Linked DNA regions of Homo sapiens: region 1 is linked to region 2. Evidence: fine-mapped expression QTL. A gene starts in region 2. The other region holds a variant in brackets. All regions are shown on one strand. Distances are between the middles of the regions. Region 1 overlaps FAM199X (family with sequence similarity 199, X-linked). Region 2 holds the start of ZCCHC18 (zinc finger CCHC-type containing 18).

Region 1 (16,633 bases), 86 kb after region 2:
TGTACTGTGGTAACTTTGGATTCATTTTAAGTCTGATAAAGTAAGATAAACTTTGTCTTAAAAATAAAATTATGCTAAGTGAATAAAAACTGAGATATTTTAAGCTAGGCATCTTTGTTAGCATAGTATCCGGAACATAACTACTTATAATGCTTAGGTCTTATTTCTTTGGAAAATAAGTTACTTATTCCAGAAGCCTTAGAAGGAATTCTGAAAATTCTTCTAACTGGCCATTAAGAGTAAGGAAGTTGAATGGTACTGCTGAAGATCTGAGTTGACTCACTGAAATTTTATTTTCTTATTTTTTTAACATTAAAATTATTTCTTTTTGGCTCTCCCTCTAGTTATTTTTTAAATTAAGGTAATTACTGTTTTAACCTAGAGCATATAATGGCAAATTAAATTTTAATTTGACACTCATACCGAACTCAGAAAAGCTTGTTTGATCTTCTCTAAATTCTGTATGTAGTACTTTTTTTAATTGTCACATTTCTTTGTTACATCTTTGTGTCCAACAAAACCTGTGGAAATCTGTGTTCATTTTTGTGGTGAGGGATGGGGGTGAAAAAGGGGAGACTTGCTCTAATTATGCATATACATTTGACTATGTAAAGGTAGTTGTAGACTATATGTATAAATAACAAGTTAACACTTAATATTCTAAATTGTTCTAAGGAACAGTGGCCTGAAGCCATGACTAGTTTTGTGGAGCTGCTGGCTCTTTTAACAGTAGCTGACCTATTGGATTTAAACTGAGACTGAAATTGACATTTGTGGTTAGGTTATCTAGCTGAGGCTTTTAACAATGGAGCAGATAATGTCTGTTCCTGTAGTGGATCCATTTAATTTCCTATTTGAGTACTCTCACTTAACAAGTATTATCTATTCTGAACCTTTGTGTTGGGAATTTAAGGACTATTGTCAAAGGCTATTAATGGTAAACAAGTATATGCAAAACAATTCACATATGGGTAAAAATTTCAAATTGTGGGTTTTTGTTTTTGCTTTTTAGTTTCAAAGATTAGTTATGTAGCAGCAATATCATAACCAAAGCAAGTAGGAAGTTGACTGGTTTGGAGAATCTTCAAGTAGTTTTAAATACTGTAATGTATCAGATTGTTAACCAGGATTTTTTTTTCCTGTATTACTGCTAAATATATTACTATATTAATGCACTTTTGTATATATAACTGTCTTCTGTACATTCTGTACTTACTACAGTGTATATAAAGCCTGTTTTCCCTGAAGCTGTGAGGGAATAACAATAGTTGTATCATAAGTCGTTTCTATTTTGAGTTCCTTCTTGTACTTGAAAGTAGTTCAGTAGTGAAATCTAAATGAGTGTGTATGGTTGTAATTAAAACTGGCAATGTGGCAGAGCTGTCTTTTGAAACTGAATACCAGAATGAAAAGTGTTGTTTTGGTTAAGAACTCTTATAATATATTATTTCTTTTGATGTACCCTGAGTTGTTACACAGCCCACTCACTGCTGCTTACTACTTTATACTTCTGAGTCAGCTCCTTTCATGCTCTATCCCAGAATATTTACCAACAGAGGAGAACTGCTCCCTTTTCTGTTTCTCACAGTTTGGTTATGGCTTTATAAACTTTTATTTGGTGAAAGCCCCAGATACCCAAATGTCATTGGCAAAACTTATTTTTTTTTCTGGACAGATCAGATTTCTAGAGAGAGCAGATTTCTAGAGAGATTAGCATTCATAGTAAGTGAAAATTGTCTAATTTTTTTAATCCATGCTATTACTGGGCAGTAGGTCTAATTTTTTTTGACAAAAAATAGATCTATTTTCCTTATATATTGATTTAGAATCTTAAGTTAGAATTTTATAGAAGAAATGTCTGAGCAGTTCTATGTATGGAGGAGCAATTCAGCTTTTCAGCAGCAACTTTATCTTTTGCCACTAGAGGGAGATCTGTGGTTGCTTTCTCCTTTGGAGAATAGCTGCTTTGCTTTTATTTTTAATTTCTAAGGTTGGAATAGAACTTATTCTCAAAATTCCTTTAGTGTTATTAAATATTTTCATTTATTAGTCAAAGGTAAGTTAATTAAGCTTGTTTAATGATGCCAATCTTATGCTTTTCTGTAATCTTCAATTTTTAATAAATGTGAGTTAGATACTAAGTGAAATGTGCGTGTGTGTGTTTCTTCTCTTAGGTACTCTAGAGCTCCATATGTGGCTAGTGACTACCATAATGGGCAGTGCATAATGTACTATCCATTATGGTAGTCACTAGCCACATATGTCTATTTAAATGAATTAAAGTTAAGTAAAATTTAAAATGTAGTTCTTTAGTCTCCTTAGCAATTCTTCAAGTATCCAGTAGCTACCATGTGGCTACAGGCTATTTACTGTATTGAAAAGCATGAGATGTAGAACATTTCCATCATCACAGAAAGTTCTGTTGGACAGTGCTGCTCTAGAGATTTGCTGGTTTATGTAGTGATCATTATCATCATTTTATCAGTGAACAGTAATTAGTGGCTAAAAAACTGCTGCCCACAGTTAACTGTTGTAGGTGATTGGTGTGAGAGGGAGATTAAACTTTTTCTTTTTTTTGAGACAGGGCCTCGCTCTGTCACTCAGGCTGGTATGCAGTGGTGTGATCATAACCCACAACAGCTTTAACCTCCCAGGCTCAAGCGGTCCTCCCACCTCAGCCTCCGAAGTAGCTAGGACCACGGGCACATGTCACCACACTCAGCTAATTTTTCAATTTTTTGTAGAGATAAGGTCTCTACAAAAAATGTTTTTTGTCTAGGCTGGTCTCGAACTCCTGGGCTCAAGCAATCCTCCTGCTTTGGCCTCCCAAAGTTCTGGGATTATAGGTGTGAGCCACTGTACCCAGCCTGTATTTCATTTTCTGCTTCATTAAAGCCACTACCAAATTTGAGAACTTGGTGGTTTAGTGGAGAAATTTATCATAGTGACCATTTCATTTGACTATGAATAAGATTTAATGTTTGAATAATGTGAGAAGTTTGGGCCAGTTTCACAGATTTTATAGTTGCAGAGTGCTGCCATGCAGCTTTCTCTGTGAGTTAGTCCTTCGATGCAAAAAAAAAAAAAAAAGCAATTATAAATGACAGTGCTGTGACACAGAACTGAATACATTTTAGAAGACTCCAGTTGTTTAAAACTATGCTTACAAATAAGTAGAAACGTGAATTTCGGAATCATCCCCTCAGTGTTTGTTTGTTTTTTTTTTTTTGGAGGGAGGTGAGTGGCGATGGAGTCTCACTGTGTTGCCCAGGCTGGGGTGCAGTGGTGCGATCTCCGCTCACCACAATCTCCACCTCCCGGGTTCAAGCGATTCTCCTGCCTCAGCCTCCCGAGTAGCTGGGACTACAGGCATCCACCACCACACCCGGCTAATTTTGTATTTTTAGTAGAGACAGGGTTTCACCATGTTGGCCAACGTGTTCTTGAGCTCCTGACCTCAGGTGATCCACCCACCTCGGCCTCCCAAAGTGTTGGGATTACAGGCGTGAGCCACCGCACCCGGCCCAAAGTGTTTTTTAATAATTCTTGTGAGAGCCTTCATAGTCACTGTTACTTGAGTTGGACAATCCTCTGCCCTCTCACCATCAGTTTGGATCTCATGGTAAGTGAGATGTTTGTATTACAGTATCCTTGTTTCTTAGTAATAAGTTGATAGATACTAGATTTAGGTATAGTGTTGCTTCTCTTTGTAATGAGCAAACATTTTAACATTCCAGTTTATTCCTTTGGTTACCAGGATCCTGTTACATGCTTTTTTATCTTAAAAATATGTATTTAGATTGGATTTATGTATTTTCAACTTTGTATTATAAAGAATTTCAGCTGGGCGCGATGGCTCACGCCTGTAATCCCAGCAATTTGGGAGGCCAAGGTGAGCAGATCACTTGAGGTCAGGAGTTCAAGACCAGTCTGCCAACACAGCGAAACCCTGTCTCTACAAAAAAAAAAAAAAAGCCAGATGTGGTGGCACACACCTGTAATCCCAGCTGCTCAGGAGGGTGAGGCAGGAGAATCACTTCAACCTGGGAGGCGGAGGTTGCAGTGAGCCAAGATCACGCCACTGCACTCCAACCTGGGCGACAGGGCGAGACCCTGTCTCCAAAAACAAACACACAAAGAATTTCAAGTAGAGAGAACAGTAAGATGAATCCACACATACCTGTATCTACTTCAACTCTTCTCACAGACAATCTTGTGTCTTTTACTCCCACCTACCCACTCACCTTACCTCAACTCCCAGTGATACTAAAGCAAACCCCAGGTGACATATTTCATTTTTTAACATGTCAGTATATGATTTTTAAAAGGTAAGGACACTTTTATTTTCTTGGAGACAGAGTCTCACTCTGTCACCCAGGCTGGAGTACAGTGGCGCAATCACAGTTCATTGCAGCCTCGGCCCAGGCCCAAGCAATCCTCCTTCCTCAGTCACCCAAGGTATTGGGACCACTGGGACCACTGATGTGCACAACCATGCCTGGCTAATTGTTTTATTTTTTTTTAGAGATGGAGTCCCTGTGTTGCCCAGGCTGATCTTGAGCTCCTGGGCTCAAGTGATCCTCTTACCTTGGCCTCCCAAAGTGCTGGGATTACAAGCATGAGCCACCACACCCAGCCTTCCCATTTTATATATAATTATGATACCATCATCATACCTCCTTATTTATTATTTATTTAAATATACCTTGTTTATTTATAAATAAAAATAGTTCTGTAATATCAAATATCTGGTCTACCTATTTGAAATCAAAATCATAACCATTGTGTTCATTTCAAAATCATCAAGATTATAACCATTTGTGTTAATTTCAAAATCATTCTGCATTTTGCTAGCACCAAGGTAGAATAGTTATTTTTACTATTACTTGATAGGTCCTGATGGTGTCTTGAGCACATTTTAATTGAAAGTGAGGTATCTATTATTCTTAGATAAAAACATTCCAGTTGTTTTCCTCACTACTTTGTTGTTAAAGCCACAGGATAATTTGAGTAGCAGGCAGGAAAGTAACTGTTCAAGATAAGCTGAGCCAGGTATTTTCTGTCCCACCTTACCTCTGGGCTTAATAATTTTCTTTTTTTTTAGCTGAAATCGGCCCACATGTAACAGATTCAAATACCTAGTATTTATTTTAAAAAAAAATGTAAGGATCCCATGGGGAATATAAGGAAAAATAGACATTTCTAACCTTTTATTTATTAGAAATTAAATCTTTTTTAACAGATAAAACAGAGACTATTGGTTTTTGTTTTGCATTTTAACTTACCAGAGTATACTTTTCAAATAAATTATAAAATTTGAGAACTTGAAAGGACTTTGGAGATCATCTGTCTTGGTTTTCGAACTTGAGCAGTGGATCAGAATCCCCAGGAGGGCTTGTTAAAACACTGATAGTCAAGCTCCACCCCCAGAGATTCTGATTGAGTAGGTCTGGGGTGGGGCTTGGGAATTTGCATTTTTAAAACAGGTCCTATGTGATGCTGCTCATCCAGTGAACACACAGAACTATTGATGCAGCTCAGTCCCTTCTTCTCCCTCCCTGCAAATGAGAAAATTTACACTAGGAGGAAAGTTACTTCTTTGCCCAAAACTGGTTAGTGATACAGCCAAATCTAAATCTAAATCTTGAGGTGACTTACCCCAAATCCAGTGCTTTTATATGTTTTTTCCCTTCAGAGTAGTTGGCTCCAGAAGCTTTCTTTCGAGTCTCCTCTGCATATGTGAATTTTCTTGGTAGTAGTAAATCTTTTGTCTTTCTAGGGCAGAAGTTACTAACCTGGAGTCTAGCGATCAAAATTATTGGCAAAATTTGTTTGCTGATATGTTTTTCTAGGGAGGGTTTTGTATCTTTTATCAAGTTCTCAAGTGAATTTCCTTCCCCCTAATGACTAACATTGTGTTTTTAGGGCACTTTTGGTTTTTGAAAATAACCAAGGGTCATTTGGAAGCTGTCTGGTGGTTGATGTGAGTGAGAAATCTGGAAATTTCTGGATTTGGCCAATGAGGTATAATTTTTAAAGTAATTACGCT[GT/G]TTTTTTTTGTGTGTGTGTATGTGGCCTTAAAACTGGTGTTGATACATACTAGAGTTCCAGAAATATCTTGGGCAAGACAGCATTATTGGACTAGGTGTATCAGGGTGACATAGAATGGGGTGATACTAATTTGGATGTATTAGCTCTGGCTTATTGATTTAAAAGAGTTTTCATTGCTTTATAATCATAAAATGTACTCTAGAGAAATCTTTCACTAATGTTTTAGAAATATTGGGTTAGATTTCCCATAATCACTTACCAAATCCGAGATAACAGAGCTAGTTGATCATCTGAAAATTTGAATGAGATATAGGCTTTTTGATTTAATGGTCATTAAATCAGTCTCTTTATTTTGCAGATGAGAAACTTGAGGCCCAGAGAGGTAAAGTGCTTCATCCAGATCACATGGCTGGTTGATGACAGATTAAGGGCTAGAATCCAAGTCTCTGGAGGTGTATCACGCTGCATATGTCATGCTGTTACTTTTCACAGTGGTTTGCACACTTGTACAACTCACACCAAGAAACTGGGAGAAACCACCCTAAGATTTTGGTATAGAACAGTGGTCCCAGTATGTGGACCATCAAAATCAGCATCACCTGGCAATTTGTAGGAGGTACAAACACTCAGGCCCCAGCCTAGACCTACTGAGTGAGATGTTCTGGGGGAGGGGCTCAGCAATCTGTGTTTTTTTGTTTGTTTTTTGAGACAGGGTCTCACTTTGTCACCCAGGCTGGAGTGCAGTGGGGCGGCCACCACTTACTGCAGCCTCAACGTCCTGGGCTCAAACAGTCCTCCCCCCTCAGCCTCCCAACTAGCTAGGACTACAGGCATGTGCCACCATGCCCAGCTAATTTTCGTATTTTCATAGAGACAGGGTTTCCCCATGCTGCCCAGGCTTGTCTGGAACTCCTGAGCTCAAGCAATCTGCCCGCCTCATCCTCCCAAAGTCCTGGGACTACAGGAATGAGCCACCGCACCTGGCCAGAAATCCATGTTTCAATAAGCCTGCCAGAGTATTCTGATGGACATTTAGATTTGAGAAACACTGATATAGAGTAGTGTATCTTTGGCTGAACATCAGAATCATCCGGGAACTTTTAGAAAACACTGGTGCCAGGCCGGGCATGGTGGCTCATGCCTGTAATCCCAGCACTTTGGGAGGCCGAGGTGGGCAGATCACCTGAGGTCAGGAGTTTGAGACCAGCCTGGCCAACATGGTGAAACCCCGTCTCTACTAAAAATACAAAAAATTAGCCAGACGTGGTGGTGGGCACCTGTATTCCCAGCTACTTGGGAGAATAAGGCAGCAGGATTGCTTGAACCCAGGGGGCAGAGGTTGCAGTGGGCCAAGATCATGCCATTGCACTCCAGCCTGGGCTACAAGAGCAAGACTCTGTCTCAAAAAAACAAAAAGAGAAAATACTGGTGCCTGATGTTCCCTGTCCCTCACCCAGACAAATTAAATTAGAATCTCAAAGGTGAGGCCTGGGTATTTATTGTTTTATAATAAACATTCTATTTTGGAATAATTTTAGATTTACAGAAAAGTTGTTACAGATAGTACTGAGATGTCCTGCATACCTCTCACCCAGTTTTCTTTAATGTTAATATCTTAATGTAATTATAGTACATTTGCCAAAACTTTGAAACTAATGTTAGTACATTACCGTTAACTAGAGACTTTATTAAGATTTCACTAGTTTTTCCACTAATCTCCTCTTTATATCCCAGAATCCAATTCAGGATCCCCTTGCATTTATGTCTCCTTATCCTCCTCTGGTGCCTGATGTTTCTTAGTCTTCCCTTTCTTTGCTTTTTTTTTTTTTTTTTTTTTGAGATGGAGTCTTGCTTTGTCGCCCAGGCTGGAGTGCAATGGCGGGATCTCGGCTCACTGCGACCTCCACTTCCCGGGTTCAAGTGATTCTCTTGCTTCAGCCTCCCAAGTAGCTAGGATTACAGGCGCCCACCACCATGCCCAGCTAACTTTTTTGTATTTTCAGTAGAGACAGAGTTTCACCATGTTGGCCAAGCTGGTTTCAAACTCCTGACCTCAAGTGATCTGCCTGCCTCAGCCTCCCAAAGTGCTAGGATTACAGGTGTGAGCCACCATGCCTGGCCCTTTCCTTGCTTTTCATGATCTTGACCAATAGGAGAATTGGTCAGGTATTTTGTGGAGTATCACCCCTCAATTTGGGTTTGTCTGATGTTCTCATGGTTAGACTGGGATTTGGGGACTTAAGGAAGATTACCATAAAAATGAAGTGCCATTCTCTTCACCTCAAAGATATACTGTCAACATGGTTTAACACTAGTTATGCTAACTTTTATCACCTGGCTAAGATAGTGTTTGCCAGACTTCTTCATTGTAATGTACTATTTTTCCCTTTCTGTACTCTGTTCTCCAGAAGCAAGTCATTCAGTCCAGCCCACACTCAAAGGGGAGAGGAGGCTCCACCTCCTGAAGAATGGAATATCTACATATATTATTTGGAATTCTTCCATATGAAAGATTTGTTTCTTCTGCCTACTTATTTATTTTTATTTTTATTTTATTTTTGAGACGGAGTCTTGCTCTGTTGCCCTCCCAAGATGGAATGCAGTGGCGTGCTCTTGGCTCACTGCAACCTCTGCCTCCCAGGTTCAAGCGATTCTCCTGCCTCAGCCTCCCAAGTAGTTGGGATTACAGGCATGCACCACCATGCCAGGCTAATTTTTGTATTTTTAGTAGAGAGGGGGTTCCACCATGTTGGCCAGGCTGGTCTCGAACTCCCGACCTCAGGTGACCCGCCCAGTTCGGCCTCCCAAAGTGCTGGGATTGCAGGCGTGAGCCACCGCACCCAGCCTTTATTTATTTATTCAGTCATTCATGTCAGGACAGATTAATGGATGTTTATTTTATACTTTGGGTTGTAACCAAGTACTGTTATTTTGTTACTCAAATTTTTCCAGCTTTGGACATTAGAAATTCTTAAAGCTTGGCTCCAGTGTCCCTTTGACCTGCCCTCATCCTTTTGAATTTTGAGCAGTTCTTTGCTTTCTGGCACTACACGATGCCCCAGCCCTAGAGTTAGCCATTTCTCTAAGGAGCTGAGCACCATTTGATTCTTTTATTTTGACATAGGCTCACACTCTGTCACCCAGACAGGAGTGCAGTGGTGTGATCATGGCTCATTGCAGCCTCAATCTGCTGGGCAAGCAATTCTCCCACTTCAGCCTCCCTGAGTAGCTGGGACTATAGGCGCAAGCCACCACACCTGGCTAATTTTTCCATTTTATTTAGAGACAGTGCCTCGCTGTATTGGCCAGCCTAGCCTCAAATGCCTGGGCTCAAATGATCCTCCTGCCTCGGCTTCCCAAAATGCTGGGATTACAGACATGAGCCACCATGCTTGGCCCTGAGCACCATTTTTTAAAAGACTTTAGGAGATTTTAATGCAGAATAAGTGTGGGAGCCACTGATTGAGGATGAGTCATATTCTTCGGTAGACCTCCTAATGCCCTGATCAGACCAAATTCTTATTAGGTATCCTCAAAAAATTTAGTCATCTTTGATTCATTCCTCCCCCTCCTTTACCTTCATGTTCAATCTTACCACCAGAGCTGTTTTCTCCTCAGGATCTAGAGCAATACTCCTTAAACCTTAATACACATAGGTACTTGTTAAAATGCAGATTCTGATTCAGTAAGTCTGTGGTAGGACCCCAAGATTCTGTGTTTCCAGCAAGTATCCAGGTGATATGAATGCTGGTGATCCATGACCCACACTTTGAGTGGCAGCAAGGGTCAGAACAAAGTTCAGACAACTTAGGACATTTCAAGAGCCTCCGCTGTTTGCCTGGCCTCAATTTACTTAGTGCATTTGTTCATTTACTCTACACTCAAACCAACCAGTCTACTCAGCGTTTGTGGTCTGCAGCTTCTCATGTGGCTTCTAATGATTGTGGCAATTCATGCCCTGTATAATTCCCTTCCCTTGGGTGTGGGCTGGACCCAGTGACTTGCTTCTGATCAATAAAATACAGCACAAGTGAGGCAGTGTAGAAAATTGTTGTCTTGCTCATGCAATCATTTGCTGGCATTCTCTTCTGTCCTCTCGGTCGCTGGCTCTGATAAAGCAAGCTGCCATGCTATGAGATGCTCTGTGGAGAGGGCCACATGGCAAAGAATCATGGAGGAGGCCTCTGGCCAACAGCTTGTGAGGAATTGAATCCTGCCAACAGTCATGTGAGTGAGCTAGGAAGTGGATCCTTCCCAGTAGATTCTTGAGAAGAGTGCAGCCTTGTGAGACCTGAGCTAAACACCCAATCTAAGTAATGTCCGATTCCCGACCCACAGAAACTGCAAGATAATGTGTGTTGTTTTAAACTGCTAAATTTTGGGGTAATGTGTTATGCAGTGCTAGGTAACTAGTACATCATTTACTAAAAATATACAATGAAATGACTTCCTCTTGCATCCTTTTCATCGTGCAAAGGAAAACTCATATGCTGCTTCCTCGTTCATTTATTCAGCAATATTTGTTGAATGTCTACTAGGCACTATGTTAAGCACCATGAGATGAGTGGTAAAGAAAAACAGATACAGTTTCTGCCTTCACACAACTTACATTCTTTTCTTTTCTCTTTTTTTTTTTTTCTTTTTGGAGACGGAGTTTCGCTCTTGTCGCCCAGGCTGGAGTGCAATGGCGCGATCTCGGCTCACTGCAACCTCCACCTCCCAGGTTCAAGCGATTCTTCTGCCTCAGCCTCCCAAGTAGCTGGGATTACAGGCACCTGCCACCAGGCCTGGCTAATTTTTGTATTTTTAGTAGAGACAGGGTTTTGCCATGTTGGCCAGGCTGGTGTCAAATTCCTGACCTCAGGTGATCCGCCCACCTTGGCCTCCCAAAGTGCTGGGATTACAGGTGTGAGCCACCACACCCAGTCTACACAGTTTACATTATTTTGCATAGGTTTTCAGTTTCCCAGAAGAGGGAACCAATATGCATTTCATTAAAAGAAAGCTAATTTTAATGCCAAGAAAGTAGGAAGGACATAATCTAAAGAAGCTGTGTGGAAACTTTTCTACGTTGTTATATTGATCATTTTGCTACAGACCAGTGAAAAGTTCATTATAGACCAGCACAGGCCACATGTAGGCTGCTGCTTCTAGGCACTATTCAAATGTTTATGTACCTTTATTCAGCTTGTATGTCATTCTGCCTTACAATTAAGAAGGTTTATTTGTCTTTCCCACTAGTCCACATTTTCATTTTTACATCCTTGTGGTTCCTTGTGCCTGTGTAAAGAACTTTGTTAATTTGATATTATTAATAGCTTTGTCAATCTGAGATTAATGGAGATTTCAATTCAAATAGGTTACTTTAAAAACCCTAACACCATCGGGGAGTACTTACTGAAAGCTTTGTAAATCCCTGTTCCTTTCCAAATGATTTTGGTCATGATAATGATACTTACTAAGGTTACAAGTTCCAGTCATCGCAAAACAAAGCAAAGCTATTTAAAGGCCGATGAAATGAAGATAATTTGTGATTCTTAAGTATCTTATTGACATGTATTAAAATTCTGGACTAGTTATCTTAGTATTATATTATCCAAATTTTATCTGTAATGTATGTCATTTTATATATCTGCACAACACCCGTATGATAAAAATGTGCCAAAATATATATAAGGGGATCATCATTTGAGCTTAATTGCCCACAAATTTTCTGCATACTCAGATACTTATGTCTGCTTATAGCTAGAATAAACTGATTAGCTTATAAATTTAGAGCTTCTAACTGCCTTGCAAGGGAGAAATAGTCTCTCAGTGAGCCTGGTAACACTGATTTGTGATTAATTGTTTTACTTAGTTGATTCATCTATGATCACAGTACAACAAAAATGTCACATTCACTTAGCAGTGTTAACTCCATTTACCTCGTGTGCATTTAGAAAACTGCCTTGTCATCAGTATAGTATGAATATGTCTAAATAAGATAGTTATTGAAAGATTTATTTCCGGCTGGGCATGGTGGCTCATGCCTGTAATCCCAGCACTTTAGGAGGATGAGGCGGGAGGATCACTTGAGGTCAGGAGTTCAAGAACAACCTGGCCAACATGGCGAAACCCCGTCTTTACTGAAAATACAAAAAAAATTAGCCAGGTGTGGTGGTGGGCGCCTGTAGTCTCAGCTACTTGGGAGCCTGAGGCAGGAGAATTGCTTGAACCTGGGAGGCAGAAGTTGCAGTGAGCTGAGATCATGCCATTACACTCCAGCCTGGGCAACAGAGTGAGACTCCATCACAAAAAATAAATAAATGAATCAAAATAAAAATAAATGAAGATTTATTTCCACTGGGAGTATGGCCATTTAAAAACGTCCTAAGGGCTGGGCGCGGTGGCTCGTGCCTGTAATCCCAGCACTTTGGGAGGCTGAGGAGGGCAGATCACCTGAGGTCAGGAGTTCAAGACCAGTCTGGCCAACATGGCAAAACCCCACCTCTACTAAAAATACAAAAATTAGCCAGGCATGGTGGTGTGCACCTGTAATCCCAGCTACTTGGGAGGCTGAGGCAGGAGAATCGCTTGAACCCAGGAGGCGGAGGTCACAGTGAGCCGAGATGGTGCCACTGCACTCCAGCCTGGGTGACAGAGTGAGACTCTGTCTCATAAATAAATAAATAAATAAATAAATGTATGTTTTGGGCCGAACGGGAATGAAGGTGGGCAGACACTTATTAGCCCTTAAACCACTTTTAAGCAATATAAGAGTCAATACTTAAAAGTCAAAAATAAGATTATATATTAGGAAAAATTAAAAGCATAGAATCAAGCAATACTGAGGGAAACCACTGCTCTCACAGACCTTTAAGACAAAACACTTTAGTATCAGGCCACGACAAAAGTCAGAACAAGAGGAGAAAAAGTCACAGAAGTTGACAAAAAAGCTAAAACAGAGAGCCATCATCTCCAGCATTTTTAAAAGAAGAGAGCAGAGAATAGTGAGACAACAGTTGACCCTCTGAGACATGAATCCAAGAAGCTCCAAAAGGCACTGGTTATACCATTAAAAGCAAAATTTCCCATAACTCAGCAAATTAATACCTTAAGATAACCCAGTTTATTAGACAACAGTCTTTTATTAAACAGCACAGCTCCTCACAGAGCAGGGCTAAATTGTAGACAGTGCACCCACAGTCAGCAATGTATGGGCTCTTAGCGACTGTATTTATACTCACTTATTCCCACTTTCAATTACATGCAAATTAAGGGGTGGGTTAATGCAAATTGAGGGGATGTCTTATTAAGAACTTTCTAAAAAGAGATGGTAACTTCTGGGTTGTTGCCATGGTGTTTGTAAACTGTCATGGTGCTAATGAGCAATGAGGGCAGCTCAGGATCACTTTAGTTACCATCTGCTGGTTTCTAATGGTTTTTTCATTTCATCCTGTCCGGACTGGAAAATAAGGGCTGGCAGTCTCCTACCTGAGAAAGGTGTATGTTTGCCAAAAGACATATGCTAGAATATTTATAGCAATACTATAATATCCCCAAACTGGAAACTAATCAAATGACCAACAGGTGCATGGATAGATTAATCAGGGTATATTCACACAATGGAATACTATACAATCTTGATCATGAATTATCTACAACTATACCCAACAATATAAATCTGTCTCACCAACATGATGTTGAGCAAAATAAACCAAATACAAAGGAGTACATAGTACGTGGTATTAAAAGAAAATTAAAACTATGTTGCTAGGACTAGGATAGTGGTTACCTTTATGGGTCTGGGATGCCTGTAATGACTACAAGGGTATTTAAGGGGCCCTTCTGGGGAACTGGTAATTTTCTACTTCTTGAGATGGCTGTTGGTTAGTTAAATAATGTAGTCTACTTGTAGAAAGTCAGTGAGCTGTACACTAATGTGCAATATTCTGTATGTATATTTCAATAAAATGCTTCAAAATGAGCATTTAAGCCAGAAGGCAATGATTGCAGTCAAAATATTCTAAGGGCTTATACAAGGTCCTTAATTACATTAAATTTTAATTTTATTTCAATGAATATTTAAAATTTTTATTTTAAATTTGAATTTCAAGGATTGTTTACTGAAAATAAAAGAGTAATTAACTTCCAAATCTGTAAAGGGAAAAAATGGAGCAAGAAAAAAGAATCTTTAAAATCTAAAAAAGGCAAGAAAAGAAAAAAAAAAACCCACAAAGTGGGATGAATAGAATGCACAAAATGGCTGAAAGAAAATCAAATATATTTTTTTAAATAACAATAAATGTGAAACAACTAATGTTAAAAGATTATATGATTAAGTTAAGGGAGAAGAAAAGCAAATGCTCTTTGTAATCTCTTTGTAATAGACACATCTAAAACATGAGGACCCGTAAAAGGTGAAAGTCAAAGAACGGGAAAAGGTATATCAGGCAAATAATAACCAAAAGAAAGGTGGTGAAACTACATTCACAACAAGCAAAATAGACCTGAAGGCAAAAAGCATTACTAAAAATAAAGAAGGTTGTCACTATGTAATGATAAAAGGTTCAAGTCACTAAAAGAATATAGCAGTTCTAAACTTGAATTTGCCTAACAACATAGTTTCAAAAATATAGAGAGCAAAATTTACAGAACTACCAGGAGAAATTGACAAATCTACATTATGGTGGGAGTTTTAAGCACTTTTCTCTATTTTTAGATTGAACAGATAAAAATTCAATAAGGATATAGATTTAAACAACACAATTACTAAGCCTAATTTAATGGAATGTATAGAACACAATCCCAATTATTACAGAAGTCTCAAAAAGCCCACACAGCATTTTTACAAAATTCGACTGCAGACCAGGCCTTAAAACATGTCTGAACATTTTTTTTTAAATATCATCAGGGCACATTTTCTGACCACAATGCAGATAAACTGGAACCAATAGAAAATAATAATTAGAGAAAAACACATCTTTGAAAGTTTGAAAATGTACTTCTAAATAACTCATGGGTCAATGAAGAAGTAACAAATTTAAAAATACAGCTGAATAAAAATGAAAGTACTATCCAACAAAGTGGTGCGCAGCTAAATTATCTCATGGGAAATGTATAGTCTTAGATGCTTATAAAACGAGAAAAGGCTTCAAAATTGATTATTAACTGTATAAATGAAGAATTCAGAGACAGAACAACAGAATAAAACTAAAGAAAATATAAGGCAGGTAACAAGAAAAATAGGAGCAGAAATGAGTGAACCAGAAAACACTAAATAGAGTCATTTTTGGCAACTCCTTTTTTTTTTTTTTTTTTTGAGAGAGAGAGTCTTGTTCTGTTGCCCAGGCTAGAGTGCAGTGGCGCGATCTCAGCTCATCAGCTCACTGCAACCTCTGCCTCCAAGGCTCAAGTCATCCTCCTGCCTCAGCTGGGAATACAGGCACGCGCCACCATGCCTGGCCCCTAACTCCTTTCTTTAACTCACACCCAAAACCCACTCTGTCAGCAAATCCTGTTGGCTCTACCTATAGAGTTTTCCAGAATCTGACTATTTCTTACCACTACTGTTGTTACCACTGAAGTCCAGGCCACCAACACATTACTTGCCTTTAGACTGTGATGCAGGTTTGACCCGTGACAAAGGAAAGTGGGAAGAAAGGAGAATTGGGGAGGAACAGCCTCACATTGCAGCATAGCTCTGAAAAAAATCCCAGCCAGCCAAGTAGGGAGCTCTGGTGCAAAGCTCACCCATGTGTAAAGATTGTCCTGTGCTGGCCATAAATGGTGAGCCATTGTACCACCATTATGTTCAGTCATAGGCTGAGAACTACCTGGGAAGCACATGGCCTTGACTCTAAAACTGAACAGACCCTAAAGCAACCTGCAACTTGAGGCTGTCAGATAATTGCACCCCTTGACTAGTTTCTCTCTTGAAGGGAGATCTGAATGGTACACCTTCATGTCTGCCATAGTAGGCATTTTTCTTTGATATAATCACAGAAGACTCGGGACACTTAGAACAGGGCTTGACAAATTATGATCTGTGAGCCAAATCCAGCCTGCTGCATGTTTTTTGTAAATAAAGTTTTGTGGGAACACATCCATGCCTCTTCATTTATTGTCCATGGCTGTTTTTGTGCTACAATGACAAAGTTAAGTAGTTGTGACAGAGACCATATGGCCCCCAAGCCTAAAATATCACCCTTTACAGAAAAGCTTGCAGATTCCTAATGTGTAAGGCACTATCGAATCTATGAAGCTATACATTTGTTAGGAAGAGTAAGACATATGCACAAATCCTTAACAATGCCAGCGCTATCTTATAATTTTTATTCTTTCTACTACATGTAAGCCCTTTGTGTGTATAGAAGGAAGTATTTAAGAAGGGTAGTTCTATGTTCCGATTTAGGCTTTCAGGTTTATTGTGACTGCTCTATGGAGAAAGTATCATAGGAAGGCAAAGATAAAAGCAGGGAGACCCGCTAGGAAGCCATTGGTATAGTCTAAGCAAGAAATGATGATAGTTTGGATTAGGATGACGGTAGAAATGGAAAGATGACATCTTATGAGATGAGGAAAAGTTAAGAGAAATTGGGTA
Region 2 (16,633 bases):
TCTCCATACTGTATCTGTCAGAGGGGGGTGATATTGGGCATTCAGGTCAATAGTTGATAGAGGAATTGTACTTTTCAATCCCCAACTCCTTCTGCCATTTTTGTAAATCATTTTGGGGGAATAAAGGTGAACAATAATTGAGAAACATCTAACCTTAATATGTAATCCATTTTATAAATCCAATCCTTTCCATTTTATGGGAGGGGAGTTCGTGTTTCTCCCATGTATTTTCTGTTAAGATGCCAGGCTTTGGAAAGGGCAGACAGACCCGAGACTGAATTCTGCCTCTGCCACTTAGTTGTGTGACCTTGGAAAAGACATTTCATTCAGTCTCAGGTTCTTCAGCTACAAAACAGGGGTATTAAGATCCACCTCAAAACGTTGTGGCAGAGATTAATAACATAAAATGAGACAAAGTGGTTGAGAATCCATAACATGGTGGCCTTGATAAGAAGGATCAAAAAAAGATGCTTCTGGACTTCACTATCTGTCTCCACAGAACGCATGCTCCTTCTGGATGCTCTCGGGACAGCCATAACCAGATACAGGGGCATTTGGGAACAAATCTTCTGTTCCCAAGGGAGGCAGGGAAGCCCTTACTTCCACAAATAGGAAGGTGCAACATAAGCAATCTAGGAGAGCCTGGCCCCTTCACATGAATTCAAAGTATAGACCACAGAATGGACCTAGAGTTGGCCTTAAGCAGATATCACCTGTACCCTATGACCTGCCTCCTATGTTTACAGCCTAGTAAAATGAGCCCAGAGGATTCCAGACTCTCCCAGCCAGTCTAGTCCACATGGGTAGACTGTGTGACTGCCCCAGGATCCAGCCACAAATGAATGCATTTGTCTGTTCATTCAGGGCATCTCTCAGCCAGTCCTTTGGTCTGCTCACAAACATGTATTGATCATCCACTAAATCATTGTGGGTAAACCACCATAGAGCTAGAGTGAATAGAACTTGGTGCCTGCCCTCAAGTGCTTAGAAATCTAGTCAACTAGCTTGGGAGACAGGTCAACAGTGTGCTAAACTCTACAGAAAGACAAAATAAAGGGTACAGTAATGAAGGTGGAAGCAAAAAGACAACAGCAATTTATTCCACCTGAGAAGGGGCATATGACTCAATCCTTAATTGAGTAGAGTAGAATAGGCTGTTGTTAGGTAGGGGAGTGAGGGCAAGCATTCTAGGCTGAGGAAGTGGCCTAAGGCACATAGGCTTAAGAGTGTGAGTTGTGCATGGGGCTGGCCTACCCCATGTGGTGAGAAGGAAATAGAGCTGTGGTTGACAGAGAGAAGCCCATTTAAGATGAGGACCACATTTGTCTTCTCCGCTGCATTGTGTTGTAGGGCACAGAGATGGGCTCTGGATACAGGCAGCCCTGGGTTTGAATTTCACTCTGTCACTTCCTAGCTTTATAACCTTGGCCAAGTTTCATCATCTCGCTGATCCTCAGTATCCTTATATGTAAAATGATTGTCATGAAGGATGCATGAGACAAAGTATGGAAAGTGCTTAGCACAGCACCTGGTATATAAGTTGCTTCATAAGTTATATTAGCAGTTTCATTTTTTAAAAATGAGATAATAGGAATAAAGGCAAGATAACAATTAAATTGTTCTAAAGGCTGCAATTGGTCTAATGAACTGGGTTATCTACAGAATGCATTTTGGACTGCTTGTTTGGAAGGCAGCAAAGAAGAGTTTTCATGGGCTTTGGAGTTCGACATCCCTGGCCTGCAGTCTCAGTGCCTCCACTTACAAGTTGTGAAGCCTGACACAAGTTACTTAATGTCCCTGAAATTCAGTTTCCCTTTCTGCAAAATGGGATACAATAGCTGTCTCAACAGGGTTGATAAGAAGCTTAAAAGAGATAACAGACAGAAAGTTCCTGGCACAAAGGAGGCAGGCAGCCAAAGGCAGCTATTATTGTTTCAACTGAAAGCTTTATCTCCAAACCTTCAAGCTTTTAAGGTTTATTTGTTGAAATTAGAAAATGTGGTCTCATTAGAGGCATCAGTTGGAACACACTCATACATGTGAGGCCATGTCCTGTATCCAATTGAAGCCAGGTTGCAAATACTACCCCCATCCCTGCATGAAGAGTCCCTCGCTTTGTTCTAGTAGCCCAACCCTGGCACCTTTACACAATCCATTTCCTGTCATTATTTTTGTCTGAGCTCTGACACCTATTCTTGGTCCTATGTGATTCCATCCCTACCAAGTCCAGCTGCAAATACCTAATTTGGTGATAAAGCCAATTTAAACACTGAACAAGACTCTTCTGGGAGGTAAGGGTCAGATGTCACGGGATGGGGGAGCAGAAGCAAAAGTCTGAAGGAAACCTAAGAGCAACTGCCAGCATCACCCCTAAGTGTGTGAGGTGAGCAACTTGCCTTCTCCATACATCCACACTTTCCAGCCTCCACCACCACTACCCCACTGTTCCATCCACAGACCATGATCCTGAGATGGAAGGTGCTTATCTCCAAATTTTTATTGTTTACTCCAAGGAACTCTAGATCTTGGGGTTGTAAATAAGAGGGCGGAAAGGAGCAAGTGAAGTACCTTGGCAGACTGAAGATGAAGCCAACAGCAGCGGAAGGGCATCAGACTGTTTACTTGCTTCTAAACATCAGGAGTCAAGAACAAGCCCCACAGAAGCCTCCTAGCCACACTATACATAAAGGAAGTAATACCTGCTCTCTAAGTCAGGGAAAAATGGAGCAGGTTTTCCAGCCACTGCCTTCATGGCCATTCACTTTGGACAGCCCTGCATGCCGTTTCCATGGAGTTGCTCCTTCTCTGGGGCCAGTGATGCCAAATCCAGCAAAGGAGAAGTACCCTGAAGAGCTCACAGAAGGGCAACCTAGCAACCTGTCCTTGAGCCAGGAAATGAAAGAGCCATATCAGCAACAGAGAGCTGTGGTTTGGGGGTTAGGTTAAATGGGGTTTTATTTCTCACACTTCTTCATCAAGCATGGCTTGAAGAAGGAAGACGTTATGACAGACCCATTTGAAAATCTGCAAAGCTGTGGGCTCAGAAGAATGTACGGAGTCCAGATTCTTTGCATACAATTCCAGGAAGGACCTCGGGTAGGAACCTGTGCTCTGGAGTTACATTTCATGACAGATATGCCATGGACAGATACACTGATGGCAGGCCCATTTACTTATAACCTTCAGCATCACGTGGTGGTGTTTAGAAAAGTGGTTCATGAATCTCTCTACACCTCAGAATCAACTACAGGGCTGGTTAAAACTACAAATCACACTCTTCACCCCTAGTCCTACTACATCAAAATCCCCCAGGGGTAAGGCCCAATAATCTACATTTATAACAAGCTCTCCAAAATGATTCTGAGGCAGCTCACCTTGTACTCACACTTTGGTTAATAGCATGAGTTCTGGATTCAGAGACTCAGTTCAAATTTTGGCTTCACCTTGTATTTTCAGACAAATCATTTTACCTCTCTGAGCCTGGCCTCTTTGGGGTCACAAAGGGCTGTCGAAATTATGTTGCTTTTATAAAACAGGCAGCTTGTTGTGTAAAAAGAAAAAAAAAGAAGAAAAGAAAAAAAGATTAATAAAAAAAATGAAAGAAAGAAAAGTACCAAGAAGAGTTTCCTCTTCTGTACAATGGGCACCATAAAGGTTGCCCTCATCTTCCCTCAGCCCTCTCCCCACTACCTCCTCACCCCCTCCCTCAGCACTATTATCACATTGAGACTGCTGTTGAGATGGTTTGAGACTACCTGTGCAAAAATACTCTCCAGGCAGCGCTGCAGGGCAACGAATTAGCATCTAGAGAGCAACAGACGGTGCTAGGTTGGATGCTGTAACTTATTTGCTGCAGGATACAGGCCAAAACTAGTAACCTGTCTCTCTCTGGCTCAGTTTCTTCATCTGTGAAATGGAGATAATGGTTCTTGCTCACCAATTCTATGCAATCCCAAGTTGGTCCTCCCATCTGGCTTTGGTTTTTCTCCACTATCCCTTAATCTGACAGAATAGAGGAGTGCTGGCAAGGGGCAGCCTTTGAAGTCAGACATGGTGACTTGGGTGTGAGCTCTTAACTCTGCACTTCCTAACTGTACTGCCTGGGTGCTTCAGTCCTTTCCTGTTAAATGGGCACACTACTACCTCCTTCACACGGCTGCTGAGAAGAGGAAAGGAGATGTCCATGCAGGCGCCTCTGCACACAGAAAGCACTCAGTAAACGCTGTTTCCCCGCTTCCCCCTATACAAAGGTGAGGAACTCTCATTGTTCACTTGGTTTCTGTCCCACCTCGTGTTTAAGGTATCCGGTCTAAAAGCCCGGAGGAGAGCCGAGGTGTAAGGGGATAGGGAGAAGGGAAGAGATGGGTTAGCAGCAAACTCACGGATGAAAGGGAAATGGGCCCAGTCCGTGCGTCCGAGCTGCTGACGCCGTGCCGCCTCCCGCGCCTGTCTGCCGCAGCCCCCGCCCGCCGGCCCGCCGGCCAGCCGGCCCGCTCCCCCTTCTTGCTAGCAGTAGCTTCGGGGCCGGAGGCTGTGCGGCGAGGCCGCCCCCTCGCCCCGCTGATTGGCCGCGTCGCCCGGCCCGTCACGCTCTTTTGTCTCAGTCGCCAGAGACTGAAAGCAACCGCGGCTGCCCGGAGGGCCGAACTGGAGGGTGGGCGCAGCCTTGGCTGCCTTGGGAACCGTGCTGCCTCGACTCGGCTACCCCTCGCTGGGCGGTCGTGCGCACTCGCTAGGTCGGGCAGCCCCGGGTCGCTTAGCGGCCGAGGAGGCGGCAGAGATCCCGTTCCCCTGCAGAGCTACGGGGACCGGAAGGCGAAACAGAGCTGTGGACGCGGGAGCACATGCTGCCCACCAGTGGAGCACAAGTAAAGAAAGAACGCGCGATTGCCCGGCGCGGAGAGGGGTGGGGGAAGCCCCGCCAGGACTGGGCGGCGCCCGGCTTGGAGAATCAGTAACTGCGAGGCAGGGGATGGAGCACTCCCTTGGCCTGGTTGCGCTGAGGAAGGAGTTGTGGTTCATCTGGATGCTGCCGACTGGATAGGATTTAGGATTTGCCTGGATTAAGGTGGGTGGGGGTGTTGTCGTAGGTCGGGGGTGTTGTTGGGTGTCGGGGGCGGGGTGTGTTCGGGGAGGTGGCAAGGGGCGGGAGGAGACGATCGCAAGCTGTCTTGAACCCCTTTTGCATCTCCTCATCTCTTCCTGGGAAGGAATATGAGGGTGGGAGGTTATCCAACTTCTAGTCTCTTTCTCCCTGGCAGGTCATCAAAGCCGAATCCGAACTTGAATTCTGTGCGGCGGATTGCAGAGCTGGTAGGGCGAGGGTCTCCCGGAGGAAATGTAAGGGGGATGCGCGGGAGGGCAGGAGGCACTTTGGCTTGCGTTCAGAAGATGGGAGAGGGAATTTTCCGCCTGGCGACAGTGGAGGCGGTGGAGGGGAGGTATCAGGTTTTCAGATGAAGCTGCTTCCAACCCTTCCTTTCCCTCCTTCGCGGCACAGTCTTGAGGCCCTGAGGACTGGGATCTGCGACACCCAGTGGACAAAAGTCGGCCGTACCCCAGAGGCTAATTTTCTCACGGCAGGCACCTGTTGCAGAGGCTGCACGTAAAATAAAGGCGAACGCTAGTTTCCGAGCTCATGTAAGAATCTGAGAAATAACGGGGGAAACGTTGACAAGGGGGTGTGATTGAGACCTGAGGCCATGAGGTTAATGGTTTCTTATTATCATAAATCTGTGACACACAACCATTGAGTTCCGTTTTGAGGGCCCAGTATCAGCTCCCAACACTATGTCATCTAGAATTAGAAGCAACAGTTGTCGCCCCTCCTGGAGTACAGGCAGGAGGGGATGGATGTGGCTCTGAAAAACTACCTACTAGCCCAGGGACACCTGCTAGCTCTGGAATGTTGTAATTGCCAGTCTCCTGCAGGGTATTGTTAAGGCACTGGGCAGATATAAAATGCACTGCAAGGCTATTCAGGAAGATAGAGAATGCTACTGCAGACTGCTTCCCCACAGCCCACTATCTTATTAACCTTTTTTACTTTCCTTAGAATCCCTACTGAAATATAAGGCAGGCACAGCCCAGGAACGTTGCTTTGGAGAATCCTGCAGATAAGGCTTTTCCAAAAAGCGCGAGCATCTTGTTGTATTCAGATACCCTATCGTCGTCAGTCATGGCTAGCATCACTGCGTGTGTGGGTAACAGCAGGCAGCAGAATGCACCTTTGCCGCCTTGGGCCCATTCCATGTTGAGGTCTCTGGGGAGGAGTCTCTGTCCTTTAGTGGTCAAAATGGCAGAGAGAAACATGAAGTTGTTCTCAGGAAGAGTGGTGCCAGCCCAGGGGAAAGAAACCTTTGAAAACTGGCTGATCCAAGTCAATGAGGTCCTGCCAGATTGGAGTATGTCTGAGGAGGAAAAACTCAAGCGCTTGATGAAAACACTTAGGGGCCCTGCCCGGGAGGTCATGCGTTTGCTTCAGGCGGCCAACCCCAACCTAAGTGTAGCAGATTTCTTGCGGGCAATGAAATTGGTGTTTGGGGAGTCTGAAAGCAGTGTGACTGCCCATGGTAAATTTTTTAACACCCTGCAGGCACAAGGGGAGAAAGCCTCCCTTTATGTGATCCGTTTAGAGGTGCAGCTCCAGAATGCTATTCAGGCAGGCATCCTAGCTGAGAAAGATGCAAACCAGACTCGCTTGCAACAGCTTCTTTTAGGCGCTGAGCTGAATAGGGACCTGCGCTTCAGGCTTAAGCATCTTCTCAGGATGTATGCAAATAAGCAGGAGCGGCTTCCCAATTTCCTGGAGTTAATCAAGATGATAAGGGAGGAAGAGGATTGGGATGATGCTTTTATTAAACGGAAGCGGCCGAAAAGGTCTGAGCCAATAATGGAGAGGGCAGCCAGCCCTGTGGCATTTCAGGGCGCCCAGCCAATAGCAATCAGCAGTGCTGACTGTAACTGCAACGTGATAGAAATAGATGATACCCTTGATGACTCTGATGAGGATGTGATCCTGGTGGTGTCTCTGTACCCTTCACTGACACCTACAGGTGCCCCTCCCTTCAGAGGAAGAGCCAGACCTCTGGATCAAGTGCTGGTTATTGATTCCCCCAACAATTCTGGGGCTCAGTCTCTTTCTACCAGTGGTGGTTCTGGGTATAAGAATGATGGTCCTGGGAATATTCGTAGAGCCAGGAAGCGAAAATACACAACCCGCTGCTCATATTGTGGGGAGGAGGGCCACTCAAAAGAAACCTGTGACAATGAGAGCAACAAGGCCCAGGTTTTTGAGAATCTGATCATCACCCTGCAGGAGCTGACACATACAGAGGAGAGGTCAAAAGAGGTCCCTGGAGAACACAGTGATGCTTCTGAGCCACAGTAAGGATCTAGTCCAGCCCTAAATGAGTCCTTGACTGTATTCAGAGTCTGGTAATGGGAATAACAGGAGAGGGGGGTGGGTTTCTAACTGCATGAATTAATCCACAAAGCAGTTTTCCTTTGGGAAGGAGAAGAGGTCTTGCATACCAGCACAGTGGATGGGGAATGGTGTGACCTCTGTCCCTGCTCTCTTCTCTGCTGGCTTAAGGGTCTATTCTCCATGTGTCTATTTCTTTGATGACTTTATACTTTTTATGAAAGGAGCATCTTTTCATTAAACCTTCAAAAATAAAGGAAGATACAAAAACTAAAGTACAAATTACCTGAAACTCAGCACCCTTTTGTAACCATTGTCAGCCCTTTGGTGAATGTCCTTCCAGATATCTCCCTGTACCTGTGTACCCAGATAGATATATGTATAGATAAGAGTGACCAAATATAAGTGCTGTTCTATACTGTGTATTTTTCACCAAATAATGTATCTCGTGGACTTCTATGTCGATGAATATATATAAATATCTAACTTCATGTCTCTGTGTGATGTTACTTTTAGAAAGATAAAGAAAAATGAAACTAAATATAGAAGCTATAAGGGGGGGTCATACCATGAGGAGGGGTTTTTATCGACCTCATTTATAGGAAAGGAGAAAGGAAGCTGAAATGGACTGAATATCTCCCATACAACCCCTTAACACAACTGACCTGTCTCCTAGGTCATAGAGCCAACCCCTGCACCCATGAGTTAATAATGTTCCAATGTTTTCTTCTTGAACATATCATGAGACATCAGATGGGGAACGGGGGGGGGACAAAAATTGAAAATGGGTATTCCAGAGGCTCCATTCCTGTTTGTATTGGGAAGGGACAACTACTCCTGCCCGATCTCTTGACCTCAGATTAGAGGGTGATAAAAGATGACATGTGACCTCTATCCCTGAGGGTCCCAAGTTTCTGGTAGGTACAGTAGTCCCTATCTTCACGAAGAGGTCAAAACTGGCAAGGAGCAGGGGGGAATGATTTCATTTAAGGCAAGGAGTGGAGTGAAATGAATGCAGACCTGAGGACCTGAGGGAGTTTGCCTGGGAGGAAAGAGGGGGTCCCTGGGCTGACAAGACAGGGTGTGCAGCAGCCAGAGCTGGCACCTCAGGGAAAGGAGCACAGAGCTATGTAGGTGGAGGACAGGAGGACAGGGGAGAGGGGGAGGGGTATGATGGCCAAGCTGGTGGGCTCCCATCTACAGTGACAGGGACAGGAGGCCTGGCAGAAACTGCAGACCCACAGGTTTCACACAGAACCCTGGGCTATGTTGTAGGGGGAGTGGAGGTTAGGACTCTAATTAGGCTAGCAGGCTGATGGGGACAAAAGGGTCTAGGCTGAGGCCCCCAGGGAGGAGTAGAAGCCACACACTGCAAGGAGCCCAATGCAGCCTTCCCGGGGCTGCCAGGCCCAGAATCCACCTTGGAGTGCTCTCCTTCCAGAATCACCTCCAACTCTGCTCTTCCCTGGGCCCTTTCCCTTGCTTCATCCACATCCCCATAATCCCATTCCTATCCCCACTGCTCCATCCATATCCCCACAATCTCATTCCTATCACCCCTGCTCCATCCATATACCTACAATTACATTCCTATCCCCTCTGCTCAATCTATATCCTCACAGTCTCATTCATACCCCCCTGCTCCATCCATATCCCCACAATCCCATTCAGTTCCCCCCTGCTCCATGCACATCCCCACAATCTCATTCAGATCCTTCCTGCTCCATCTGTATCCTCAGTCTCATTCCTATCCGCCCTGCTCCATCCATATCCCCACAATCTCATTCAGATCCCCACTGCCCCATCCATATCCCCACAATCTCATTCATATCCCCCCTGCTCCATCCATATCCCCACAATCTCATTCAGATCCCCCCTGCTTCATCCATATCCCCGCAATCTCATTCCTATCCCCCTTGCTCCATCCATTTTATCACAGTCTCACTTTACCACCACTCCCCTTCCCTGGAGCCACACTCACCTCTTGGTGGAGGGAGATGGAGGCTCAGCTTCATGTGCTCTGCCCATCACCACCTCCCCCTCCTCCGCATTCCATGATGGCCTTAAGCCTCAGCCTCCTTAATGCTCATGGCCAGTAGACTGGGAGGGCCCCTCTGCCTCTGACCTTTTAGCTGAGAACTGAGCAGGAGTAAAGGTCCAAGAGACCCACTTTTTGCATCCCTCTGGGGCACCTCTGGCTCCTGGCAGCCACCTCCATCTCACCACAGGCAAAGAGGACCCCACCACCCACGCAGGAGGCAGCTTCATCAAGCCCCCAAAGCCACAGGGTCCCCCAACACTACCTGGCTCTTACAGCCCCCTATTCCTCCCTACCTCTCCCAAAGTCTATCCTTGGAGGGGATTTGCCCACTCATCTCTCCAAGATTAGAATATAGTTCCCCTTGCTGCTCACCTTTTCTCAAATTCACTCTATAAATGCTATTGAATGATTTACCTAGATATGCTGTCATAATTTCTTTCTGAAACCAGGTAGAGTGAAAAGAGGAATAAATGCTACACCTACCCCCATCCTCCTTTTCACTGGAGTTAGCTTGGAGGTTCAAGATCATTACTTTGAAACCCTGCTGTGTAATTCATCCCCTTTCCTTCCCCCCCATCCTGTCCTCTGTTGTGTAAACCTGAAACTGTCTAAATTTTTACTTCACCAAAATGATGCAAAAGTGAGACTTTTTATTTCATTTTGTGTCACACTGGCTTTCCTTTATTCAAGAAGTATGTATTTTCCCTAATTGGAAGACAAAGAAGACTTGGAGTGATTACAGGGTTAAGTGAAAGAAGGCTTTTAAAAAATTTTGTGTTTGATACCCTTCATTTATAATTATTGTTTTTCCTTTCCTTTCTCCCTTCATTCTCATTAGTCGCCAAGAGATGAAAATTGCTCTTTTGTCTTGTCAGGAGAAACCAGCCTTTGAATGACCTCCTTTTGCAATATCTCCCTCCTTCTTGATACTATTTTCCCTTGTTTCCATGACATCCATCTCATGGTTTCCCTCTCCCAGATCTTTTTGATGCCTACTTCTCAGTGTCTTTTGCCGAATATTCTTTCCCTTCCTGATCCTTCCACAATAGCAATAAAAATTAAAATCACTGCAAGTGCGATTTATTCCAAGCTTATTACATGCCAGGCACCCAGTGCCAAGCCTTTAAAATGCATTATTAGCTTTTCATAGCAACTCCCTTAAGATAAGCATGACTTTCTATTTCTAACTTGCTATTAATTTAATTACTATTAATTGACACATATTTCAGATGATGAAACAGGCTGGGAAGTTAGGAAACGTACTTAGGGTCATGTAATTATTTAGTGGTACAGTCAAGGATAAGACACTGGACTGACTGATCCCAAAGTCTGTGTTCCTTACTTGAGTTAGCCATCATGTGCACAGCACCCCATGAGGTAGGTGTTACTATTATATAAAGATGATACATGAGGAAAGCAAGGTCAACAGACATAATTAGCCAAATATCATAGCAGCAAGTGGCTTGTGCGCCATACACAAGGATGCAGCCTTTAAGGAATACTTGTGTGACACAGGCCACCTTTCTTTCACATCCTCTTGTTGCAGCTATCCTTCCTGCTGCCTGGCAACCATCCCCTCCCCCTTCAGAGTTGCATTATCACATTCAGTTCAGGTATCAAGTTTCCAGTCTATGCTTTTGGTGCAAATGGTTTTGAATTTGATGTATGCAAGAGGAGACAGCTGCAACAATGAGTGGAGGAGAGATAAATTGTTCAATTCATGGTGCTGGGGGGAACTTCATTACCTGATTGGAAAAAAGGTCAGTTTCCTTTCTCCCATGACACTAAATATGAATCCCAGATACATTTGAGCAGTAAATGTAGATTTTATGCAATTATGTATTAATTCTTCTTTAATCGTATATTTTGTTATAAAATGAATAAAAAGAATCAAATGTTCAAAAGCAACCCCTTTTAAAGCTGCAACACAATACATGTTAAACCTCTGGGTTGGAGAGAACTTTCTATGGTTAAGAGTAATGAAAGAAAGTATAAAAGAAAAGACTGATAACTCAGAAGACAGCATTAACAGAAATAAAATACCAACAGTAAGCTGAGAAACATTGGCAACAAATATCATGGAAAGGGGGCAGGGCTGGCAACAAATAAGAGAAGCAATAATAACAGCAAATCTGTATTGTGTTTAGATAGTTAACATTTATTAAGGTCTTACAAAGTGCCAGGCATATTCTACAAGCTCTACATGGCTTTATACTTCATTTCATTCTTACAACAAGCCCTGAGATAGATCTTATCTTAAAATTTCCACATTCTAAAACACTCTTTAAGCGGGGGGCGGGGGGAGCAGAGGAAAGTGCATAAAATATAAATTTACAGCTTAACAAATTATTATAAAGCAAATCACCATAAAGATCAAGAAACAGAACAGATCAGAACTCCAGAAATTCCCATAAGTCCTTGCCCAATCACAACCTCTTTCCTCTCTCCAAAACAAAACAAAACACTCTCATGACAGTTTTAGCTGTTGCTTTCTTACTTTCCTTTATAGCTTTACCACTCAAATATAGATGCCCAAACACTACTGTTTCTGGAGCTTTATGTAAATAGAACTATAATGCATATATCCTTCTATATCCAGCTCATTGCCCTTACAATTATGCTTCTGAGATTCAACCTGGTTGCATGCGGCATCGGTTCATCATTCTCAGTATTGTGTTACAGCTTTCCATTCTACGACTTTACAAGAAATTATCCTTTTACTGTCGGTGGACATTTGGACTGTTTCCAGTTGGGGACAATTATGAAAAATGTTGCTAAGAACATGTTTTTAATGTCTCCTGGTACATATGTGCACACACAAGGTATATATGTAGGAGAGGAATTGCTGGCTCATAGATTGTGTATATTTTCAACTTCACTAGATACCACCAAACTGTATATCAAAGTTGTACCAATTCCCACTTCCACCATCAATGTTTGAGAGTTCCTGTTGCTCCACATCCTCACAAACACTTGACATTGTCAACAAAGCTTCATAACTTTTGCTTGAGGTTTTGTACGTCTATTATTACATTTAGTTCAAGGTAATTGTGTATACTACTATAAATTAAATATTGGTTTAAATTTCATTTTCTAAGGGCTTGTTGATGGTATATAGAAATATAACTGGTCTTTTGATGTTGATATTGTACACTGACTTTGCTAATCTCTTAATAATTTTAATCTGTAGCTTCCTTAGAATTTTCTGCATACACAAGCATGTCATCTGTGAATGATGGTAGTTTTATTTCTTCTTTCCCAATCCATATACATTTCTTTTTCTTACCTTACTGCATCGACTGGGACCTAGAGTACAACTAGTGAGAAGAGACATTCTTGTCCTATTCCTGAACTCAAGGGACCACTTTGAGCAATTCAACATTAAGTGGATGCTTGCTGCAGGTTTTTAGTAAATACCACTTATCAGTTTAAAAATGTTTCCTTCCATTCCTAATTTACCATAAGTTTTTAAAATAATCAATGGATGCTGAATTTTATGAAATGCTTTTTCTGTATCTATTATATATGCTTTTTTCTCATTTATTAGTTAAAATGCTAAATTACATTATTTGGGTTTCTAATAATAAACCAACCAGGCATTCCTGAAATAAACAAGATTTGGTCCTGATTTATTACAATTGTTATATATTGCTGGATTCAATTTGCTAATATTTTGTTTAGGATTTTTAGATCTATGTCTGTAAGAGAGATTCACCTGTAATTTTCCTTTCTGTATAATGTCTTTGTGAGATTTTGGTATCAAAGGTTTGCTGGCCTCCTAAAACTAGTTGAGGAATACAATTCTTCTTTGGCTTTCTTCATTTAAAAACCAGGCAACTGAGGTCCAAGGTGTTTAGATTATTTTTCATAACTGCATTAAATCCAATTATTTACTTGTATCCATGATTTATTAAACCAGCCTCTTTAGAGCCATTCATTACCTTGTTTCCTTGTTTCACTGTTATAAACCCACTGAGAAAAGCATCCTTATTCACATACAGGTTTGCACATGTGAACGATTATTTCCTGAGGATACATTCCTAGAGGTGACGTTACTGGAACAAGCACTATGTTTCACAGGAACCAGAGCAGAAAGAGAGGTGGCCTGTGGCACATCCTACTTTAGTAGCTCTGGCTCACATTCAGGGCCCTTCCTCATCTCTTAAACTTGCTGGGAATACCCTTTAACTCTGAGCTACTAGAGACTTTAATACTTAATAATATTTAAAGGTCAACTCAGCTCTAAGAAACTCCCCAAATTAAGTTTTCAAATGATTTGGCAGGAGGAGCGGGTTGTTTTTAACATTTTCAATGGAACTTTCCAAACCCACATGAAATTATAGAAAATGAATGATGAATCCCCATGTACTCATCATTCAGCTTCAAGAATTATCAATATGTTGCATAATTTGTCTCATCCCCCACATTTTGATGAAGTATTTTAAAGCAATTACTAGACATCACATCAAATGGTATGATATATATATATATATATATATATATATATATATATATATATATATATATATATATATATATGAACATAGATATTTGGTAGAGATGGCAATCGCACTCTGTTGCCCAGGCTGGTCTCAAATTCCTGGCCTCAAGTGATCCTCCCGCCTTAGTCTCCCAAAGTGCTGGGATTACAGGTGTGAACCATCATCCCTGGCCTGATTCTTCTGTATTCTACCCATAGTTCTATCCCCCCTTTTTGTTCCAAAATTTTCATTGTGGTAAAAGTTACAAAAAATTCACCATTTTGACCATTTTAAAGTGTACAATTCAGTGGCATTTAGTACGCATTCCAAATATTTTTTATTTGTATATGTCTTTATTCTGAGTCCATTTTTCCAGAGGTTTATTAGTTTTTTGTACATATTTAGATGTCTGATTTCTTTTTTTTGTTTTTTTTTTTTGTTTTTTTTTTGAGACAGAGTCTCGCTCTGTTGCCCAGGCTAGAGTGCAGTGGTGTGATTTCTTCTCAGCAGGTGCAGACACTTCTCTGAAGACCAACAGCAGAACTGAGTCTCAGGATGGGTAAAGGCTTCTGTAAACCTCCAGATCCACAGCCCCAACTACTTTCCCTTCACCCTGGCTGAATACCACATCTTGAGGCAATCAATTACTAAAAGGCTGCTCACACTCTCTTTTTCCGTAATGAGACTACTTCAGCCCCCTTTTATTTGGCTACTCTAAATTCTCCTTTTATAGGGATACAACAGCCCTCAATGACTTCTTGAGGAAAAAGAAGATAATCACAAATTCAGTTTCAACAAGCAGGACATTTTGCTATACTGTACCAACTAAGCCATGTTCCTCAATCCAGCTTTTGGGAGTCTGAGAAGAAATACCTCTCAGAGCAGGGAGTCAAGGAGATATATTTTTATTCCAATCTGAATACTGTACTTTGTATAAAGGTGGCTGATCAGGTTGCCTGTGGAGAGGTTGGGTGGTTGGACAAGAAGAGGGATGTGATTTGGGCATTCCTGAACCTTTGGCTCCTTATCCTCAAAGGAGGAAAGGAACTTGGGCAAAGTAGTTAACTTCTCTGCTTCAGCTTCCTCACCAGTAAAACGGAGACAATAACAGGAAGTCCCTCACAGGGTTGTGGTAAGAATTAAATGAATGAACACTTGAGAAGTCTTTAAAAGAGTGCCTGGTGCACTGTAACTACTGTGCCATAGAATGCCATCATAACGACACCAATCGCTTCGCTCCAAACTCTCTGAGCACCCTTGTAGATGGATTACCTAAACCGTCCCTCCCAGACTCTTCACAGAGAATTTCATTAAAGTCAGTAGACTTCAGCTACTCTCTCTCATGTGCAGGGGAAAACAATATAATCCCTTTATGAGCTAACCAAATAAATTCTCTCAGGAACTGCCCTTGCATGAAGAACATACCTCCAGGGATGCTTGCTTAGTTGGGGAGGTGAGTGAGGCTCTCTGGACCTAGCTGAGATGGCCTGGACCTAAAGGAAGAGAGTAGCTCAAATTCCCCACAGAATAACTCAGAAACTTTGAAGGATGGGAGCTGGTAAGCCAAAGAGGTGAGGGAGCTCTAGGGTCAGGCAGGAAGCTCAATGGAAGAGAAATTTGAGAGAAATTGTTCTAATATTCTTCTGTGTAGTTTGCTGATTTGTTTATTTTTTTTTTTTACTTTTTTTCCCTTTTTTTAAAATTATACTTTAAGTTCTGGGATACATGTGCAGAACGTGCAGGTTACATAGGTATACACGTGCCATGGTGGTTTGCTGCATCCATCGACCTGTCATCTACATTAGGTATTTCTGCTAATGCTATCCCTCCTCTAGCCCCCTACCCCTCAACAGGCCCCGTTGTGTGATGTTCCCCTCCCTGTGTCCATGTGTTCTCATTGTTCAATTCCCACTTATAAGTGAGAATATGTGGTGTTTGGTTTTCTGTTCCTGTGTTAGTTTGCTGATAACAATGGTTTCCAGCTTCATCCATGTCCCTGCAAAGGACATGAACTCATCTTTTTTTATATATTTATAGTATTCCATGGTGTATATGTGCCACATTTTCTTTATCCAGTCTATCACTGATGAGCATTTGGGTCAGTTCCAAGTCTTTGCTATTGTGAATAGTGCTGCAATAAACATACATGTGCATGTGTCTTTATAGCAGAATGATGTATAATCCTTTGGGTATATACACAGTAATGGGATTGCTAGGTCAAATGGTATTTCTGATTCTAGATCCTTGAGGAATCGCCACACTGTCTTCCACAATGGCTGCACTAATTTACACTCCCACCAACAGTGTAAAAGCGTTCCTATTTCTCCACAGCCTCGCCAGCATGTGTTGTTTCCTGACTTTTTAATGATTGCCATTCTAACTGGCATGAGATGGTATCTCATTGTGGTTTTGATTTGCATTTCTCTAATGACCAGTGATGATGAGATTTTTTTCATATGTTTTTTGGCCGCATAAATGTCTTCTTTTGAGAAGTGTCTGTTCGTATCTTTTGCCCACTTTTTGATGGGGCTGTTTTTCTCTTGTAAATTGGTTAATGTTTTACTGGTTAGCCTTTCAAAACAATTTCTGGCCAGGCACAGTGGCTCATGCCTGTAATCCCAACACTTTGGGAGGCTCTGGAGGAGGATTGCTTGAGGCCAAGAGTTCAAGACCAACCTGGGCAACACA

What was found.
Region 1: its variant is fine-mapped to the expression of ZCCHC18 in whole blood (TOPMed, PIP above 0.99).

What each region holds. Positions count from the first base shown.
Region 1 is chrX:104,193,756-104,210,388 of GRCh38, forward strand. FAM199X (family with sequence similarity 199, X-linked) reads left to right here. Exons shown (of 6, transcript NM_207318.4): 6 at 1-2,147. Among named protein-coding and RNA genes, the nearest start is that of FAM199X, 36 kb to the left of the region's middle. The variant GT/G (reference allele first, on the strand shown) is at 6,050.
Region 2 is chrX:104,107,934-104,124,566 of GRCh38, forward strand. It overlaps ZCCHC18 (zinc finger CCHC-type containing 18), which reads left to right and starts at 4,590. Exons shown (of 3, transcript NM_001143978.3): 1 at 4,590-5,068; 2 at 5,262-5,313; 3 at 5,501-7,909. The coding sequence starts at 6,179. The coding sequence ends at 7,390. The region is part of intron 1 of SLC25A53 (solute carrier family 25 member 53); the gene reads right to left. It overlaps LOC286437 (a long non-coding RNA gene), which reads right to left. Exons shown (of 1, transcript NR_039980.1): 1 at 14,372-16,633. RefSeq lists an enhancer at 2,874-3,113 and a silencer at 4,311-4,540.